3 linked regions of the Homo sapiens genome follow. Each later gene encodes a partner of the first gene's protein in a complex. Links are inferred from orthologs where the notes say so. Each region holds a gene or a part of one and is shown in the gene's direction. Other genes may lie near its edges.

Region 1 (8,414 bases):
TCCGCCCTCCGAGTCAGAGCCGCAGTGGAACTGTCCCCTCCCCTCTGCGGCTGCTATTTTGCAGCTAAGTGAAGTCGCAGTGTGGGGACTCCAACTGCGGTGTTCTCTCCAATCACCATCCATTGGGAAGCTTGGGGGGACTTTTTTGCTCTGGGGGATAAATTACTACATAGAGGAGAAGAAGCGTTCAGCGCTTTGAAAATCGGTTTTGGTTACTTTGGCGTTTTTTATTCTTTCTACTCCTGCGATCTCAGCCCCCTCCGCTCCCCCATCCTCCTGCTACAGGCGTCTTTCCATGTGTGCTTTGCTGCTGCAGGGACTTGAAAGTTAAATTGTGTTCCAGTTATTGTTTTTTATTTGTTCATATACAGCACGCACGTGCGTGTGTTGATATATTTTTTTCCTTTTTAACTAAACGCGTGTTCTGCACGGTGATTTGTGCCTCCCCGCTGTGCCTTCGTCGTGCCACGCCTCTCAGTGCTCCCAGCTATCAACTCTGGTCTCTTTAAATCTTTCTTCTATCACCAGGGGACCCATTTAGTTCCTCCAAGTCAAGGACATTCATCATAGAAGGTACACAGTGCCCCCAGCCTGACTATTGACTTCTGTGTCCAAGCTGCATTTTATGAGACAGTATTTTTATTTACATGATTCTTTTACCCCATGAGAAACTTCTCCATAAAATGCATAAAGAGGGGAAAGAGCACCCTATGAGAACACCTTGCAAGTGAAGGAAAAGCAAAGTGGTGTTGGAGCCCCTCGCCCCCAGCCCCCCATCCCCTCGTTCCTCCTTCCTCCCGTGCATGGCCCCCACCCCTGGGCTTGCACTGCTGAGCTCCGCGGCGGCCGGGGGTCCTCTTGATCTGAGGATGCTGTGATCCCCACCTGGAGCCTTGACCCTGGATGGTGCCATGGGAAGGGTTGGGGAAGACCAGGTTTCCACAAGGAGCAAAGCCATCAGGGACCCCAAAACACGCGGCCCCCCACCGAGTCTTAGCTCCTCCATGGTTTATGTTTGCTAAGCTCCTGTCTCTCCTGGAGGCAGAGATCACCTGGCTTGTCACGCTGCCCCGTCCACAGCACGCTGCTCCTCGGACGGCATGCTGGCTGCGTGTCCCCTCTCACCAGGTTGCCAAAGCGCTCCATCAACGTGGAATCATTTTCCTCCTGAAAGAATAACCACAGGAGCCGGCAGCCTTCTGAAACCAGGGGGTGGCCTCTGGCCACGCACAGTCTCTCTGCCCTCCCCACAGCTAACGGCCCCAGGACCCCACCCCAAGGGCAGGTGTCGATCTCCCTGGGCCTGGGCCCCTGTCTGCCAACTGGTGCTGCCACCTGAACCCCCATGTATTATTTGTGATGCGGCAGGAGATGCTGTGAGTTTTGGCAGCAGCTAGAAGGATTCAGTCTTCCTACTTCCGTTCAACCCCATTAAATATTGAGGTGAAGGACAGTTGTCCCTAATTGTCCCTGGGTCTGGGGCCACTGATATCACACTTGGGCACAAGTGCAGGGTGCTCCCTCATGTGGGCTCCCTGTCCAGCCTGCTTCTGCCCAGATCCTCCAGGGAGCCCAGGGGCCTTTGCCTAGGACTCCCCACCTCAGGACAGCCAGAGGCTCCTGCCCCGTCAGCCCCGTCTCTCCATCACTGCATGGAAGGGGCGCCGCAGGGCAGCATGCGGTTTCACTGGCTGGGACCTTGGAGACCTGAGACAGCTGCCGGGGAGGGAGAGTGAGGGAACGGGGCTGGCCTTGGGGGCCTTGGCTTCCCTCTGTCTGGCATGTGGACCTAAGCCTTGGCTGAGAAGAATCGGGAACTGATGCTGCATGCTCACAGGTGCCCCGAGAGTGTTTCTAAAAAACCACAAGGCCGGGCAGGCCAGGAGCCCGGACCTGGGCAGGATGTAGTCAGAGATTCTCCTGGGACCCTCTAGGTTCTCCTCAAACTTTCCCAACCAGGCACTTCCTGAGGGTCTATCGGAGTTGGCAGTTAAAGCAGGTGGCCCAGGGAGGTGGCCCAGAGAGTTCAGACTCCCTCCCAGATCTCCACCCCCAGGAGGGGACAGAGAGGATTCCCAGGAGCTACAACCTCTGACCTTGGAAGTAAGCAGAGAGCAGGGCTGGGCCTGCAAGCGTGGAAGCCAAGGGTGGTTTGCCAGGGGTCCTGGGTGAGTCTGCCGAGACCACCACTCCAGAAACCCCAGTGGCCTCAGCTCTAGCCTTTAGGAGGCCCCAGGTTCTGCTCAGGGTGGACCTCAGTAAAGGGGCACTCAGGGAGCGACCCCCAAAACAGAAGTGGACGGGAAGCCAGCACTGCCACTTTGTGGCCTCGTTGCCATTCCAGGGGGGAGCCTGCAGAACAAACCCAGCATCTTCCATCCTTCCTTCCTTCCCATCAGCCCCACTCCCAGCATTTTCAGGACCTCAGCTTCCACGCAGCATGGGCAAAGGACAAGCAGGCACTGAGGGAGAGCCAGGGCTTTTCCAGGGTCAACGTTGTTGCTGTCTTTAGAAACACTTGCACTCCCACTCACTCCCACACTGCCTTTGGCGGTCGAACTTGCAAGCACTGTATCCGACCCGTGAGAAGCCTAGCGCCATAGTCCCTCGCCCTGCAAAGCTCAGAGGCTTCTGAAATTTGAAATTTCGACGCCAAGTTCTGTTTTTAAAATCACAATATCCCCATGAGGCTGAGAGGGAGCTATAACCAGCAGATTGCTGTGTCTCAAAGCCATGTTTGAATATTGGGAAGAATCCACTGTGTCGCTGGGGCGAGGGTCCCTCCTCTCTTCTTTAAAAGGCCAGCGTGAAGTCTCCGCGATTTCATCCTCAGGGCCTTAGGAGTCTCCGCCGTCCACGATTCAGGTTGTTCCCAGGGCTCATGGAGCCTCAAAACTGTCCTACTCCAGGCCCTGGCCCCTCACAGGAGGAGCACCCAGACCCCTGTGGCCCTGGGACCACCCCTTGCCAGGGGACAGGCGGGTTGGGACTCTGGCCTGGTGCTGGGCTGGTTTGAGAACCTGGGCCATGGTCTTACAAGGCTTTCCACGCCCACTTCTCAGTCTCCTGGACATGACAGGAAACATGAGCTCAGCCCCGAAGCCCTATTCTCCGGGACCATATGGCGCCCCAGGTCCTGCCACATCTCCTTATCCAGCCCACTCTCTGTTCCAATTAGACTTTGGAATAGCCCGAAGTAGGAGACCAGAAACGCAAAAACACATGTCCCTCCTGCCGCCAATCTGACTGTAACGTTCATGCATTCACCTGGTCCTTCCTGAGTGATCGGGGCCCTCGAATCTTCCCCAGACCAGAGAACCTCCAGTTCTAGAGTCCAGAGCCACATTCTTTGATTGTCCCCTCTAATCTACCATAGAAACATCACGGTCCATCCATAACCCATTTTTCAACATTTCCATAGGCCTGTAACCAGTCGGGGAAATTGTTTTCACGACCAACTTCTAGGATTGTGGTTCACTTTTCTCTTTCATCCCAAAAAACCCCTCCCACACCCAACTTCAGAGCCAGGAAGTACACTGCTTGCAAGACATCTTCGCAGCCCCTGTCCCTCCTCCCAGCGTCCTGCCTGTATTTGCAGAATGTCCCGAGGCTGGCCCTGAGCCCTGGCTGCCCCCCACCTGCGGTTTCCCTTTCTCTCACGACAGAGACCGTCCGCGCCATGACCCACGTCATCAACCAGGGGATGGCCATGTACTGGGGCACGTCACGCTGGAGCTCCATGGAGATCATGGTACGGTGGCCGCGCAGCATGTGTGTGTCCAGGCACAGACTCCCGGCACCGGCTGCGTATGGAGACCCCAAAGCTCTGGCGGGGTCTGTGCCTTTGGTCCCAACTGCACCGATGCCTGGGTGCTAAGGGAGGGACAGGATGGTGGAGTGTGGTGGTTATGTCTGTAGGCCTTGCAGACGGGGATTCTGCATGGATCCCAGCGCTGTGTGGCCCTGGACAAATGGCTTAACGTCTCTGAGCTTGTTTCCCCACCTGTAGAACACATCTGCTAGGTGAGCCCCCATGGGGCCATTCTAAGGAGTCCCTGAGAGAGCCAGTGTGAAGCTCTTAGCAGATGCCCTGGAGCTCAGCAAGCACTCTGGGGTGACAACACCGTCAGCTGTTTCCACTGGGCTCCTGAGACGTGCCCGGTGCTGTTAGGGTCAAGGGTTCCACAGGGACCCTCTCACATGCAATCCTCACCGGTGCCTTTACCAGGTGAGTGCCGCAGGCAGCCCATTTTTCAGATGTGGACACTGTGGCACAGAGAGGTTCAGTAACATGCCAAGGTCACACAGCTTGGGCCAAGATTAACATCCAGGCTGTGTGGTTCAGAGCCTGGGCTGCTCATAACTGGACCCTCCGGCCTGGGGGTCCCACCACCCACCTCCTTTTCCCAGCTCACCAGGGCCTGCCTGGCTCCCAGGGAAGCTATGAGTGTGAGCAGTGGGGAGCCCGGGCTGCAGCTGCTGGGCCAGCCTGCTCCGGGGACACCTTGGTGCCCTCTCCATGGCTGCCCCGGCAGCCTCCCGCCTGCTCACAGGCAAGGGCCCTCGGGGTCCCTTTCTGCCTTCACAGGAGGCCTACTCCGTGGCCCGGCAGTTCAACCTGACCCCGCCCATCTGCGAGCAGGCTGAGTACCACATGTTCCAGCGTGAGAAAGTGGAGGTGCAGCTGCCGGAGCTGTTCCACAAGATAGGTGGGCACCCTCGGGCCCCTCGCCCCGCCCCACCCCACCCCTGCTCTCGGGCCCAGGGCTTGACTCCACCTGCTTTTCCTCTTCAGGAGTGGGCGCCATGACCTGGTCCCCTCTGGCCTGTGGCATTGTTTCTGGCAAGTACGACAGTGGCATCCCACCCTACTCAAGAGCCTCCTTGAAGGTGAAGGAACAGCCTGGTGGGGAGGGACGGGCAGGGGATAGGCATTTTGGACGGGTGGGACCTTTGGGCCGACTGCTTTGGTGCTGGGCAGGGGTTCCGGGAGCTGCAGCTGTTCCCACCTCGGTCTGCTGGGGGCGGGCTCCTTGGCGTGAGAACATGGAGCCCCTCCTGGCCTGATCCCATGTGTAGAGGGGCTGCCCAGCCTGTGGCACAGGCCCAAGTGGAGAGGCCCTTTCACATCCCCCCCCCTGCCCCCACCACATCCCCCCATCTCTACCCCCTACCACATCCCCCACCTCTGCCCCCCACCACAGCCCAGCATTCAGAACTCTGAGACCCCTGGGCCTGGGCTCCGAGATGGGGGCTGCAAAGCCACATGGAGGTGACCCTGGGAGAGGCGCCCCTCCCCACCACACAACCTCTGAGTGGGGACTCAGGAGGGTCCCCAGACTGCAGGATCTGGAGAACAAGGAGCAGGCCAAGAAAGTCTGCCCAGCCAGCAGTCTCAGCACTGGGGCCCACAGCCCTGGGTTCCAGGGCAACGTGGCCTGGCCCCCGACTCCTCCCATCCCATGGCAAGGTCAGGGCCCCCCTCCAGGAGGCCCTGCAATCCTCTGGGGGGGATGGCCAGGGGAGAGAGCACTCCCCTAGGGCCAGGAGGTTCTTCTGGGCCACGGGTGGCAGCCGAGACCCCAGGCTGCCAAGTTTCCTAAGAGAAGGAAGGCCAGCACCTCGCCTCCTTGTCCTGACTTGGGGTTGGGCCAGCACCACAGTCTTTGCACTTCAGAGCCTGGACAGGCCCCGCTCATCCACCAGCCCGTGCCCGGCCCACTGCCCACTCTCCCCTACTTGAGAGGCCTGGGGCAGGGGCACTGCCCTGGCTTCAAGATGAGAAGAGCCCCTATGAGGGAGAAGGGTCCAGAAGGAATGAGCCCATCGGCCCCCTGCACGTGGGGGTCCAGGTGACCTGCTCTCATCTGTAGCTGTGCTGCTCCCCTCCCCCGCAACCAGGGCTACCAGTGGCTGAAGGACAAGATCCTCAGTGAGGAGGGCCGGCGCCAGCAAGCCAAGCTGAAGGAGCTGCAGGCCATCGCCGAGCGCCTGGGCTGCACCCTGCCCCAGCTGGCCATAGGTAACGGTGGGGTCGCCATGGGGCCAGTGCCCCTGGGGAGAACCTGCCCCAGCTGGCCGTAGGTAACAGGGTGGGGTTGCCATGGGGCCAGTGTCTCCGGGGAGAGAGGGAAGGGATCCCTGGACATCATCCCCCAGCCAGCCTCGGGTAATCGGGCTCTAAGGGGCATGGTTGGGACCCCATGCCTCTAGGGGGATGTCAGGAGTCCCTGAGGACCTGGGCCACCCCCTCCATCTGCCAGCCATAGGTAATGGGGCTCCCGCTTTCATGGGAAGAGGATGGGGAGCGCTAAGCACTTGGGCCACCTCTCCATCAGGGAGCAGCGGGCTCCCCCATGCCTCCTCCAGCCACCTCTTAGACAAAGCCCGTGCCCAGCACTGCAGGGCTTCCTAGACCCCCTCAGACCCCCAGACCAAGATGCTGGGTCTCTCGGCCCAGTCAGAGGCAAGGCAGACCCATCAGGGGCCCCTGTGGTGGGTGTTTCTCCCTCACCTTGGGTCTCGCCGCCACAGCCTGGTGCCTGAGGAATGAGGGAGTCAGCTCCGTGCTCCTGGGGGCCTCCAATGCGGACCAGCTCATGGAGAACATTGGGGCAATACAGGTAAGAGTGAGAGGCCCTGCTGGGCAGAGGGCCCATCCCAGCCCGAGCCCCGTCCAGTGCATCCTCCCAGGCTCGTCCTGCGTGCCAGGCTCTGTTCTAGGCACTCAGGATGCGCCCGTGAACCATCAGAGTTGTGCTCCTGGAGAGCTTGCTTTCCAGCAGGAACAGACATGAACACTAACTGCACGAAACAAGGAGGTTAGAATGTGTGTCAGGGTGGACGAGCGCTGTAGGAGAGAAGCCAGAGATAAAGGGAGGGAGCTGGGGCCAGGGACGGTGGCGCTGCAGACTCAGGTTCAAGGGGGCCTGTCAGGTGGGCTTGTTGAGAAGGTGGTGCTTGAGCAGTCTTGAGAGATGCGGAGTAAGTCACGCAAATGCCTGCGGGAAGAACCTTCCACCAGCAGGAAGAGTTGATGCAAAGGCCCAAAAAGGCCTGGAGCAGAGGGGCAGATCCTGAGAGGCACGAAACACCTCCAGGGACTTCTGAGTGAGACGGGAGCCGTGGCAAAATTGTGGGCAGAGGAGGGCGAGCTGCAGCTCAGCCTGGAAAGGGAGGCTGCTCTCCGGCTGCTCCATCGGGGAGGCTTTGGGAAGCAAAAGTCGAAGCAGAGAGCCCTGGTGGGAAGTGGCAGCTGCGGGTCCGAGACGGGAGTGGTGGTTGGATCCTGGATGTTTGGGAAGGTGGGGCCCCCGGGACTGGCTGACAAACTGGATGTGGGGGTGAGAAGGCGAGGTGGAAGTCGGTCCCCGGGTGTGTCACCCGGAAGGGTGGCGGTGCTGTATGCTGAGGCAGGCGCAGCTGGAAAAAGCAGTCACGGACATGGAAGTCCAGCATTTGGCCTGGAGTTTCCATTTTATGTCACTGCTGCCACCACCCTTCAGGAAGGTTCTAGGGCACCTTGACATTTGAGAGGGAGTGCACAGACCCAGGCATGCTTCCTCTCTGCCCCAAACCTTCTGAAACACAAAAGCAGCGTGGCCTCCATCTGCCTCAGATGGAGCCCAGATGTGATGGGGCAACCCGGGCCTGGCCAGCCGACCATCTGGAAGAGCCTGGCCCCACCTCCTCCCCAGGCCAGGCCCGTCTTGTTGGTGGGATTCTGATTTGTTGTTGTTCTTGCACGCAGGTCCTTCCGAAACTGTCATCTTCCATTATCCACGAGATTGATAGTATTTTGGGCAATAAACCCTACAGCAAAAAGGACTACAGATCCTAAGCCGCCCCCGCCCGCCTGCTCGGACAGTTTCCGTTCCCTCCTAGTCTCTGTTCGCTCGCTTAAGCTGTTTTGAAGCCAAGTGAAGAGTGTGGTTTGCATCCAAGAGAAAACACCACACTGTGATGTCATCGGGAAATGATCTCCCAAGTCGCTGCCAGACACCACCCACTGCTTCGCCGGACAATGTCGAAGTCCAGTCTGTGCCGGGGAAGGCACTGGTTAGGAAGGATGTTCAAACGGTCCCACCCAAGCCTGTCACCTCTGCTCATCCTCCAAGACCACCCAGCTTTCTCCCAGCCACAGCCAAGATTCCCAAAGTCAAGGCCCAAAGATTTCCAAGGTTCCCAAAGTCAAGGCCAGGCCAAGGCCTGGTTGGGTCCTTGGGGCGGGCAGGGCCAGCCTCTCCTCTGCTGAGAATCCCCACTTGGTGTAGGGGGAGAGGGGAAAGGGGTCTGGCCCATCGAGGGGCCCCTTCTGCCAGGGCCTTGGTTGCTGGGGCAGGGCCTCCCCACTGGGGGTCTTCCTCCACCTCCCACTTTCCAAGGGCTCCAGGAATCTGGGGCCTGACCACAGA
Region 2 (7,475 bases), about 100 Mb from region 1:
TCAGGAGCAAATCCACTGCTTGGTGGGTTGGCTGTCTAAGAGGCCTAATGGGTTAATTTGTCTCATTGGTAACCCCACTGGGCCTGGGTTTGCTGCCATTGCCTCAGACACTCCGGTATCCATGGATTCCTAGACGTTAGAATTGTCTTTCTGCCCTCCATGTGCTGCAGCTTCAGTTCCCATGGCTGAAGCTTGTCTTACTGAGTGCACAAGGGCCCTGTGGCCCTCACAGTTCCAGCTGTCCTGGGCCAGACCCACCCCGGGCCTCCTCTCTACAGTTCATCCTGTTCATCATCTCCATTTTCACCTCTTCCCTTGCCACTTGGATCTTATTATCATTTGGCTCTGCATCCGTCACTTTCACAAACCTTTCGCTAAAGAGCCAGAATGGATCCCCTGCTTTGAAACCAAGGACACCAAGGAGTAGGACTCCCTGGGACCAAATTCCACTGATCTGGACCTAAAGGGAGCCTCCTCTATGTGGAAATGTCTGAAGTCCGGGACTAAGTGATGGAGTCCCTAGATGATCCAAAGGCATCATTTTGATCTCCAGACCCAAACTCTCTCCCCATTAAACTGGCAACCAGAGCTGCTTTTTAAAAAGAACCAAAGGATGGGTAAAGAATCATTTCCCACCCCCCAGAAGAAGTAGAGTGCAAATGAGCACTGCACAGCCTAAAGGTAGACAGTAGGTTGACCCTGAAATGGCTTCAGGTAGGGGGCTTTTAACTCACCAGACTGGGCGTCTTTGCCTTTTGACGGAGTAGCTTAATTTTCCCAAACAGTGAATTGCAGGGGTCGGGCTATGCAGGGGTGGCTCCAGCCCAGGCCTCACTGCTGCCTAGTTAGCACCTACAGTTGTCTTGGGGCATGGGGCACCAGCTCAGGGTGCTAGGCCCAGGGTGCTCATTAGTGCCTGGTCACCCACATCCCCAGGTATCTGCAGGGCATCCCATGCCCAGCACAAAGCCTCTGTGCTTCTCTTCCTCTCCTTCATGGGAGGTGGTGCTGAATTTCCAAGGCATGGGGTGGGAGGGACACAGATCTTTGGAAAATAGAAGGTAAAGCAACCCATATCTGAGGCCTAGGTCAGGGATAGATATCTTATCACAGTGTCCTTGGCCCAGGACTCTAAAATGTTCACATACAGTCATGCACATTCACCACAAAATAGGTACACTGTTGTCACACACAAACATAAAACATGTAACGTGCAAAATACAGACAGACCAGGTTAACATAAAAGCAAACACAGAAGATATATGGTTATAATTGTATATAAAATGCACACTCTGCACAGATATAGAATTTACACAGAACATACACAAAAGACAAACATACACCACATACAAATATACAACCTGAAACTCAGATGCAAAATACATAAAAAACTACATGGACAAAATGCATATGCATATAAGATACACAAAGGCTACTTTACCATTGTTTCTACACATAAAATACACACAAACTCAGTATATACACACGATGCATTAACTTATAATAGGCATACAAGATACATAGCACACATGCCCAAAAATATCGCACAATACACATGAAATGCAGACATATACTCAGACCCATTGCCCTGCCCCCAGAGCTATGAATTAACAGGCACAAACAAAAGATCAGATGTAATCACCTTTGCCTGGCCTGTGTCTATATCCCCCAGGATCTTTCAAGGAATCTCTTTCTCTATTCTTTTCTCTCACTACCAGATTTCACTCCTGAGAAGTAACTCCTAGGTTTCAAGCAGGAGGATGGGCCACCACATCAAGCAGATATCTGACTAAGACCAGGAATTGCATGGGGTCTCTACCAATTCACCTTCCTCCCACCAGAAACCTGGGTGCAGGGTGTGAAAGTACCTGGGACAGCTGGTAGCCTAATATAGGCCTCCTTGCCATGACCCTTCCTTCCTTCCAGCAAATCCGCACAGACAACCCAATAGCCCAGGCTCCCCTTCTCCCAGCACCTGGGATCTCCAGATTCAGCCCTATTCTCTTAAAAGCAGTAATGGCTCAAGAAACTGCAGGATCTTGAGCCCAGGACCAGGGTAAAGATGTCCCCAACATTCTCTAAGCCCACAGATTTTATTGCCCTTCCATCCTTTGCAGCTTTGTTGGGGGCACGGTCAGGAAGTTGAGACCCTATAGAGACCTGTCTCTTAAAATGAGCCACCTTTACTTGCTTGTGGCATTTCACTTGCTCTTGTGCATAAGCCCAAAGGGGCCAACTCCTGATTCCCCTCTGGGTGTGTTCAATCCCGGGCACGCTCTTCCTTTTCCTCTTGTTGGGCTCCCCTGGATGCCCTGCCTCCCATCCAATTGCTATGCAACCCAGTTCAGCTTAAGTAAAAAGTGATTAAGAACATACATCTAAGGCTAAGCAAGCTAACACTTTTTAGAGGGCCTGACTTTATCCTATATTCTAAGGCCATATTTAAATACTTTCTAAGATTACCCACCATTTTGGATTACTCTTGGAGCTGGTTCTTCCCCTAAGTAGGACTAGCTGAGAGCTGAGTGCATTTTAGCAAAGGCTTCACCTACATCGGAAGTAAAGAGTTGCAGTCAGGCTTTGGATCAGGCCTCACTCCTGATTTCTGCTCCTGCAGCCATCCCGTTGTGTCTCACTCTCCCTTCCAGTGATGGTCGCAGCTCCCAGTCTCTACAGAAAAGGTAACAACAGTAGGGAGTGGACATATGGGTCCAAAACGTGTGCTTTGCTGGAAACTTGTGTTTCCAGGTCAAGGTACCATTCCTGTTGGCTTCATCAAGTGCCTCTGTGGATTCATTTTCAAGAAACTTGGAGTTTTCAGGAGACCGAAAAGGAATAGGCCCAGGAAAGGTGGAGAGATTGTCAGGAAGAGAGAGTGGCTGAGTGGGTCAAATTTCAGAGTAAACTTTTTAGGAGCCAACATTTAATTAAGAAAATAATTAAGGCTCTGTGCTTTCTGAAACTTCAGTAATATTTGACATGCTCTCTTCCTTCTTCTCTGCTTGCCTCTGTCCCTCTCACCTGTGTTTCTGAGGCTAGTGTTGGCATGTCACCATGAGGTTAGCCTTTTAAAAGGGGCCCCACGGGAGTGTGCCTCTAGATTGCGTTAGCCTAGTATGGAAAGGGCTCCCATGGAAGCTATGATGGCCTGAGACCCCAGCCTGGGTGTTCATGTTGCTGCTCCGTGTTGGGAGGGCCCAGGACTAGCTTGTTCTACCTATTCTTCCTGGATCTCTCACTATATTATAGTGAGGACTCTATCAGTATCAACCCATGTGGAGAGAGGACAGCACCCTCTGAAGCTCCTCAGGCTGGGGATTCAGCACTGCCCACAGTAGTAGAGTCACAGAGGCTGACTCCCCCCTAAGGAAACTATAGAACAGTGTGCAAATTGCATATGAAGGTGGCACCACTACCCCTATGTCAGGCAGGGGAGCACAGTGCTTTGACTTGTTTACTCAAGAGAGGGGATGATGGTGCTGAGCTCTGCTCCCCAGAGCTTTCCTGGGGCCCATTGTCATAATAACTTGTATGTGGGTGATGGCCGCCTCATCTGCGAGGGCTATAATATCCATGGTGCTCCTTGGTTGCACAATGGAGGTTCCCCTAGCCTTGGCAAGGTATCCATTGCCGGGTTTGAACTCATGACCTTAACCTCATTAACATCATCAGTCACCTGAGCCAACGCGCAGAGAGGGGGATGCTGGGAGCTCTCTCAGTAGCTATTGTGACCATCATCTATATCTTCAGACTTAGCCCTTGTTGAGTCCAACCCTGTTCCCCTATCAAAGCAACCAGCAGGGACAGATGGAGGTAGGGGCTCCCCTACATGCAGGAAGGTTCTCTTCCTCAAACTAACCTAGTTTACTTTTCCTTTTTTTCTGCTTCCCTTCCCACCAAATCTCAGCTTCATCTCTCATAGTTTGTGTTTGAATATTTTTAAAGAGGAAAAGTGCAATAAAATAAATAGTGACTGTTTTCTTTAGCAATAGCTCTTTCAAAATCTTGCTCTCAGGACTGAAAAGTGATAGATAGTACCTGGATTATCAGATAATGCCCTTGACTTCTGGGGGCTCATTCACAGTCTCTGTAGTTTCTTCTTCTTCCCACGTGTTCACATGACTCCTGTCCTCTTGAGATCTGACCTCCTTCTGGAATGGACACATATGCTAAGATGCAGTGTATGCACAAGGAAGGCCTGTGAGAGGGCTTTGTCACTTTGTCTCCTTCCTGTGTGCACCTCTCTGTCTCCATGTGTGTCTCTGTCCCCTCTCCCTCTGTCTCCCCATTTCTGCCTGCTGTCATACAGCATCCTTACAACCTCTAGGCATGAAAATCCTAAGTTTGTGTGACCTTTTCAGCCCATTTTGTTGACTTTCCCTCAGTCTGGCAGATGTAATGGAAGCCTACACGAAAGCACTTCCCAATAGATAAGAATAAAGCATCCTGAGCCATTACAGAAGATCATTTCCATGCACTAAAAGCCATTACTTGATCCTTTTGCTTCCCCTTCTCCCTTCCCCAGGGAGACGGATGCTGAGGGAATGTGGCCTGGAGGTTTGCACTTGGGATCAGTAGCCTGGGCAGATTTGGGAATTGCCCTCTGACTCTCTTTCAAAATAAGCTGACTTGCTCAACCAAAGGGACTCCGTGAGAGCTGCAGAAGGAAGCAGGTTCTTGTGGGTTTCAGTAGAAGTCTACAGGGATAGAAGTTTGGGTGGTTAGGGCATGACATTAGTGAAATAAAGACTCTACCACCCGCTAGAGTGTGCAGCTGCACAAATATTTGCACACATAGCCAGGGGCTTCAGAAGAGTCCCCTTTCCTAACATCTGTGAGCTTAAATGTTCAGACTGGACAATCAGGGAAGGCTGGCAACCCCAGGGTCCCATTCCATCCTTTTTTGATCTACCTTGCTCTATACACATATGTACAGCAAAACCTCAGTTAACTGATGGGGAAACCTCAGGGACAGGAACATCCTGATTGCTTTGCAATTTTGGTTATTTGAGTGGGAATGGGAAAGCATGTCTGGTTCAACCTTTGTTATTGAGAAAAATATTTCCTAAGTAGGTTAGCATAACTTTCCTGCCTTAGTTAAGTAGAGTGTTTGAAGATAACAGGGACCTTGCCTTGCTCAGGGTCAACATTGTAAACCTCAATGCTTATTGTACAGTAGTGGACATAGGTAGAGAAGACCAAAGAGACAGGCTGAATGGCTGCTGGCTACAAGACAGGCCTGGAAATGGGCCACTGGGGCACATCCTGGCTCATCGGAGCCCTTGCTGTCATTTGCCTCTTTCTACTGAAAGGATAGTAAGAAAACATAATTCTTGTCAATCGAGGTTTTGGTTAATTGGTCCTGAGTTTTTAGAGGTTTTCCATATATACATATATTTATGTGTGTATATATATATATATAGTATATGTATATATGTATACTATTTTTAAATTATAGAATTATACATTGACCAATCTCCTTAGTTTCACTTATGTGGAATAAATTTGGCAATCCAAGGAATAAACTGCATTTATGTGCATTTTTTGAATGACCTCCTTTGCATTCTTTTCACCTCTCCAGTTCTACTCTTTTTTTTTCTGCTTAGGGACCTCTCTAGAAGGCAGATCTTTCATAAAAAAAGAACAGGCTACAGGATCACCTCTTTCCTTTCCCTCCCAGGTGGCTGCCTGACTCAGGGATAAAAGGGAAGTCTGATCTAACAGCCAGGTGCTTTAGCCTTTCTTCTGTCTGCCCTGGTTGGCTATAACCTCATCACTGAGGATCAGAAAAGTTATTCCAAACTTTGTACTCGAGGGGAGTGGAAAGCTTGAAGACCTGGCAAAGGATTTATCTATTTAGCATTCTCTTTGTCATTGGTGGTGCCCTAGGTTTGAGGTTTGTGAGATCTGAAAGTAACATTCCAATGAAGAACTAAAGCACATCTCTGCCACACAGAAGGTGAGGTTTGTGGCAATCAATGGAACTAACAAATCCATTCTGTTTTTTATTATGACTAAACCTAAGTTGAGGGTGTGGGTATTAGAGCAGCTGAAATTCAGTTGCCTCTTTGGGGGTAAGCTGTACACATCACTCAAGAAACAGCTGGATGCAAGCTAAAACCTGCTCTCATTCTCCCTCTTGCCTGCTAGTGTGTTAGATCCATGGAAGACAGTTTCTCTCAGCCTCACCTCTTGCATTTGACTGTTGCTTTCTACCTAGATGGGAGTGGGAGGGATTTTTCACTGTATCTGGAGCAATTGAAGTGGTGCAGGGGTGTCTGCCATCTCCCCACACCCACAGAAGCCCTCCAGTCTGGCTATGTTAGTTGTGATCAGGCAGCAGAAGCCCATAACCCAGACTTGACATGACCAGCTGGTGCACTGAGGCAGTTGAGGTGGCCTGTCTGGATGGCTACTTCTTGTACTTCATGAACCTCAGCATGGAAATGGATATAACTTTCTGTGCTCCTCTGCACTCCTAAAATAGTCTAATATGTTCCAGATGAGTTTGCAGCTGAGAACTCCCTGCATCATTCCACTGATGGATGCACAGGGCATGATTATGTAATAATGTGGACAGCTACTGCAACATCTAGATCATTGAGGGCAGTGTAGATGTGGCTGTGTGCTAGGACCCTTGGTAGCTATCCAGAGGACTCAGTCTGGTGTCTTTCTGAGTCTCTGTGAGAGGCCTCTAAGCCCTGCTTCTCCTTGAAAATGATTCCCTAGACACCGAATGCCTTGTTTGTATGAGTGAATAAATGCTCTGGGCTGCTAGAGAAAGCAATAGGAGGAGCTGGGAGGAAGAGAATATTCAGGGGCGCACTTTGCTACCAAACAATTTCCATGTCAGCTGCTAACATTACTGCCTTTTTAGCCTATGAAGTGTAGGGCAAGGACTTTGACCTGCCAGGTGGGGCTGGAAAGGAGCACATCAGCTCCAGGCTAAGAAATGGGATAGAAAAGCAAGAAGAGAGGCCTGGCTGGCTTTGGCGGGGGTGAGTCTCAGCTCCTGAGGGTTTGAACATGCTCTGTGCTTGCCCCAGTTCTGCCTTCACGTGGGATCCAGCGACCCAGTTTCCTTTTGTTGTCGTGCTTGGATGGTTCCTTCATTTGAAGGGCCCCAGGAAGCTGGAAAGTCCCATGATCAAGCTCTAGCCTGCTGAGCAAACAATACCCCAGCCAAATTGGCCTCTTCCTGGTTTTCTGCATCCCTGCACCCCTCTCTCCACTAAGGATAATCTTGGAACAGTTGCGATTAATGGTGCCAGCAATCAAGGAAGATTCTCTAGTTTTCATCAGGGACATAGCTGTAAAGCTCATGAGTGGAGGATGCTATTTCCTTTTCCAGACCTGTGTGCTTATGTGCTTATATAGGCTGCCTCTGGAGACTTTATATTGTGTGTGATGTGTGTGTATATATATATACACACACATATATATATATATGTATATATATATATAGAGAGAGAGAG
Region 3 (4,365 bases), on another chromosome or scaffold:
TATATGCATCCGAAGCAGAGCTGATTTTTTTTTCTTTGCAGTCATTCTTTGAAGTCTGTAGAGACTTCAGCCCTCCCCTTGAGGCTCCCTGAAGAAACTAAACCAATTGATTTAATAGTTGCTTAGTGCCTTTATCCTGTACCCACAGTGAACTGTAGAAAGTGCCTCCTTAACACAGCTGAGAAGTTAGGTAGCAAAAGTGGGGAAGGGTTGGGGCACAGACCTTTTGCTTTTTCTTTTTCCATTCTCGCTCTCTCATTTCACCACTGTGAGAAGACCACACCACCCTAAACCCTGGAGAGGAGAGACCCAGGAGGGTGCTGTCTCTCTGGCCATCTACTAGCATTGGTCCCTTTGACAGCCTGACGCTGGATGTGAACTGAGACCCATCTTTGAACTGGACATGAACTGTGAACTTGTTTTTTCCTCTCTCCACCAAAGCCAAGATAAACTTTTTGGGAATTTGTTTCCTATCGAGGGCCACTTTGGACACACAAGGCTTCCTCAGGTCCAGTGTAGTGCTCCTGGCACCTTTCCTTATTTTTTTCTCTGTCGGTAACAGCACTTTGCAAATCTCTCTGACGGTCCAGTCTTTTCAGGCATTGTTGTGGATGTGGGAACACTCAGTTCATAATAACCTTTCCTAGGCCTTCCCTCCTGGTCTACCCCTTTCAGATATTTCCTGATGCCCCTATGATCTTCCCACCTGGCAGTCACTTCACAGGTTGAACATCTAACTTCTGCTGCCCCCCCGTTACCCAGCCCAGAGAATGGTGGGGACCCTGTTCCTGGCTGAAAGAGAGCCACGGAACACAGGCCTCTGGAGCTCGGCAGCTGCCCACCGGTGGAGAGGTACTCACAGCCTTTCAAAGGACCCTGAGGTGGGGAATCTTCATTCTGCACTTAGCATGTGGCTGCCTGTTACCTGACATTCTGGCCCAGCTTCTTCTGAAAATCTGTCCTGCTTCTCCCACCCCTTTCCCCCATCCTGTCCTAGAACTAGCAGTGAGGCAATCACCCTAGAAACTCGAGTTACACCCATTCTGGCTAACTCGATTAAAAGAAAGAACATGGATATCTTATTTTCCTATGTGACTTTTGTGAATCTGTGAGATGAACACAACACACATCGTGGAAGATGAGGGGCCAAGAACTGCGCAGCATCCGACTACAGGGCATTAAACCCTCCCATGTGATGTCTCCTTCTCGTCTGAACCTTAACTCATTCTGGCGATTCCTTTCCTACTTGCTTAAAAATCCCCAATTAGGAAAAAAATGCCAACCTCCTCCCAGGCTTGGGGTTATCTTGATCTTTCATTTCAACGTTGAGGTCTAGTGCACACAGAACTTGAAACACCGCACTCTGTCAACAGCAATAATCCACTCAGTACTGTGGGATGGATGGGTTAATGGATGAGAAAACGGCACCAAGACTGACTTTGGGTATTTGGTATATTTACCGTGGTTACACTCTGGACTGGTTGATTCTTCTGCATGTGATATAGAAAAAAGTGCTGCATGCGGTGAACCTGTCAGTCTGGGACTGGGGGTGAGTTGTTGTTATGAGTTTGGGGTGGTGTGAGGAAAGTGAATGCTGCTTAGCTCATCTGTAGCTCATTGCAATGAATTCAGTAAGAATGGAGTACAGGGATTATCTGTGTAGCATAGGCATGCAATGTTTGACCAAGCTCTTACCCTCGCACTGTAATGTGTTGAAATGTCTTTGTAGACCTGAAGGTGCACTTAACAAAACTGCCTATTAAGGGATGACTATTTTTTGGTTTACTTATTCATATTTATTTTAGCAGCCTTTTTACCTTTTCTTCCCCTTCCTAGGCATGGAGCTGTAACAGCTCATGTCCTGACTATGTGTTTTCTCCAGAAGGAGAAGACTTCTGATGTGCTGATAGCTATAATTCCTCTCTTCCAGTCTATTGGGGCCCTAGTTCAATAGGGTGGCAATAGAAGAGTTGGTCACACCAGGGCTGTTAGCCATCCCAGAATCTCTGAAGTGGTTAACTCACCTGAAGTGATCTGAATCAGAGAGACCAAAGACATTCATTTCCTCTGTCCTCAGATTTCTAGAAGACAAATTCTAGCCAGGAAAACTTTCTGTTTTTGCATCTCCCTTTTCCCATTTGTGCCCAACTCCCCTTGCACTCCCTGGAGACTTGAGTTCTGATTTTCAGTTATATCAGCTCATTGGGAGTGTGTTCGTGGGTGAGCCTTGCAGAATCAGATAAACCAATAGCAAGTCCTTCTCCAGGATTCTGGCCAGTGGGCAGTCATTTCCCTGAAATGAATTGTAGGGCAGGTTTAGATTCCACTATGGTGGACGTGAAGCACAGGTGGTGTCACAATCTTGATTTGCTTGAGAATTAAAAAAATACATGTAAATGGTAAATGAGGAATACATTTTTTTAAAGTAGAAATTTGGTTTAGCCTATAAAAGGCCTTCTTCACATTGTGTATAGTTACACGTTTTTCAAATTAGGTACCATCTAAAAGTCAATAAAAATAGTTTCCTAGCCCTCTCATTTAATATAGGAGACCTCAAAACACATGCTTTTTAACAATTTTACATTTTAATTCTTAGTTTGGTAGATTGGATTGAAAGAAAGGAGAAAGAACATTAGCAGAAGGCACTTTCCCATTTTCTTCCAGGAATGACTTATTCCTGGGGTGGTGAGAATTGGTGGGTGGTAACCATCCATAGTATAAAATTGTTAGAAAGAATATAAACTGCCAAACAAGCATGTTATCTTCAGGCTTTTCCAAGCAAGAATGAAGTCTTTTGATGTTTATGTTCATTTTAAGAAGACAAACAAACTAAAATTTTAAGACCAGACACAACCCAAGTTGAATTGTGATCTCAGGAGGTGAACTCTCATTCACCATGTGGCATATTACTACCTGTATTTATATCATGGAATTTCAGGGTATATGTGAACATGTCTAGTATGACTCAGGTAAACCTTTAAAGAATGTATGTTACTTACCATTTTTGTAAAGAAGCAAACAGGAGCTGAATTGTTAACCAAAACTGTTCCATTACCTTGGGTCACTGTGCAAACTAATTCAGGGTACAGATATAAAGTTTAGAAGCCTTGGGATTAAATGCCAGCCTCTTTGCTCAGGCAAAATGACCCTGGGCTTTCTTGGGAAGTCCAGCATGTATGTAAGGGGTGAGGCCCTGCTGACCTCAGGGCTTTTCGCTTTAAGGAGATTAACCCTAGTCACAGTGATTTTCATTTAGGAGCTAACTAGGAGTTTACTCTTTATGACGTGAAACTTCAAAGAGTATAGAAAACTTTTGTACCACAATCAAAGAAGAAGAAATGGTGTATGGAAAGAAAACAAAACAAAACAAGAAATCTCTTGTAAAATATTCCAGGTCAAAGTTGTCTCCTCTCCAAACCTTGCAGAAGCACCTTTCTTCTCTTCAGCGCACTGTTTTGGGACTGTTTATGCAGCAGATGTAAGTAGACAACATGGACTCCATGTGACATGCCTCTAATAGTAAAGATAAAGTATTACTGAGGTTAAAAATAAAAATTGAGTAGTATTAATTTAAAGTGCACCATCAGGACAACAAACCATTTAAGCTGAAAAAACGCTATTTTATTTCTTGAGTTTGCCAGTTGCTTCCACCTTGAGTTAAGGACGTGTCTCATCTTCACCTACTGCGCATTCTCCCTTCTCTAACTGTGTAATATGTCAGGTCAAGGACATTGAATGTTATGAATTGAGAACCTAATTGATGCGCATAGTTTTCATCTATGCAATTTTACTTGCTTCTGTCACTTTACGATCTGTTCATATTTGGCATCAATTAAAGATACTTTTTAAGGATCTTATCAAGGAATATCTTGACTGGTTATTTGTCTCTTGTTTAACTGGTCTTTTGGGGGCCCTTTTCTTCCCTTCTTCTGTGGGGTCTCTTTAAATAGTGGGGTGAATCCAAGATCAGATCATGAAACAGACTTGTTTCCTTTGGCCCACGTGGTCTGTTTCTGCTGTCCAAGGACATATCCGGGGGTTACCTTTTGAGGATAAATTCAGTTTGGTCTCAGGTAAGATCCCAAGTGAAGACCACTGGAATTTGGCCTGTGGAAGTTAGAGTGGAAGGAGGATCAAGCTTTCAAAATAAAACAAGAAATGAGGCTCAGGGGAACAAAGTAATTGGTTATATCCACTTAAGTTGTTTTGATTTGAAACTAGTTTTTATGCACAGTCTGAGAAGCTTTGCAGGAAGAATAATTGTGGGTGTGTGTGTGAGAGAGAGAGAGGGAGACAGAGACAGAGACACGACTGTGTGTGTGAGTGTAACAGAGTTGTGGTCTGGAATCAACTGACTTGATAGTT

What was found. Proteins that work in one complex are often made in the same cells at the same time.
Region 2: the proteins of KCNAB2 (region 1) and KCNA2 are in contact, whole or in part, in a crystal structure (PDB 5WIE), measured with the Rattus norvegicus proteins. The link is inferred for Homo sapiens from one-to-one orthologs. Residues at the interface, in NP_059000.1 of Rattus norvegicus: Met193, Met196, Tyr199, Ser200, Arg203, Glu231, His234, Lys235, Ile236; in NP_037102.1 of Rattus norvegicus: Asp28, Glu33, Pro62, Met66, Phe69, Asp70, Pro71, Leu72, Arg73, Asn74, Tyr76.
Region 3: the proteins of KCNAB2 (region 1) and KCNA1 are in contact, whole or in part, in a crystal structure (PDB 1EXB), measured with the Rattus norvegicus proteins. The link is inferred for Homo sapiens from one-to-one orthologs. Residues at the interface, in NP_059000.1 of Rattus norvegicus: Met196, Tyr199, Ser200, Arg203, Glu231, Lys235, Ile236; in NP_775118.1 of Rattus norvegicus: Glu37, Met70, Phe73, Asp74, Pro75, Leu76, Asn78, Tyr80.

Annotation. Positions count from the first base shown.
Region 1 is NC_000001.11:6,090,735-6,099,148, forward strand, and holds part of KCNAB2 (voltage-gated potassium channel subunit beta-2), read left to right. Parts: intron 1-528; coding exon 529-573; coding exon of another isoform or gene 574-602; exon of another isoform or gene 603-3,646; intron 3,647-3,665; coding exon 3,666-3,751; intron 3,752-4,588; coding exon 4,589-4,709; intron 4,710-4,795; coding exon 4,796-4,890; intron 4,891-5,901; coding exon 5,902-6,022; intron 6,023-6,534; coding exon 6,535-6,623; coding exon of another isoform or gene 6,624-6,797; exon of another isoform or gene 6,798-6,821; intron 6,822-7,750; coding exon 7,751-7,840; 3' UTR 7,841-8,414.
Region 2 is NC_000001.11:110,594,283-110,601,757, reverse strand, and holds part of KCNA2 (potassium voltage-gated channel subfamily A member 2), read left to right. Parts: 3' UTR 1-7,475. UniProt on the Homo sapiens protein: Voltage-gated potassium channel that mediates transmembrane potassium transport in excitable membranes, primarily in the brain and the central nervous system, but also in the cardiovascular system.
Region 3 is NC_000012.12:4,914,392-4,918,756, forward strand, and holds the end of KCNA1 (potassium voltage-gated channel subfamily A member 1), read left to right. Parts: 3' UTR 1-3,865; downstream 3,866-4,365. UniProt on the Homo sapiens protein: Voltage-gated potassium channel that mediates transmembrane potassium transport in excitable membranes, primarily in the brain and the central nervous system, but also in the kidney.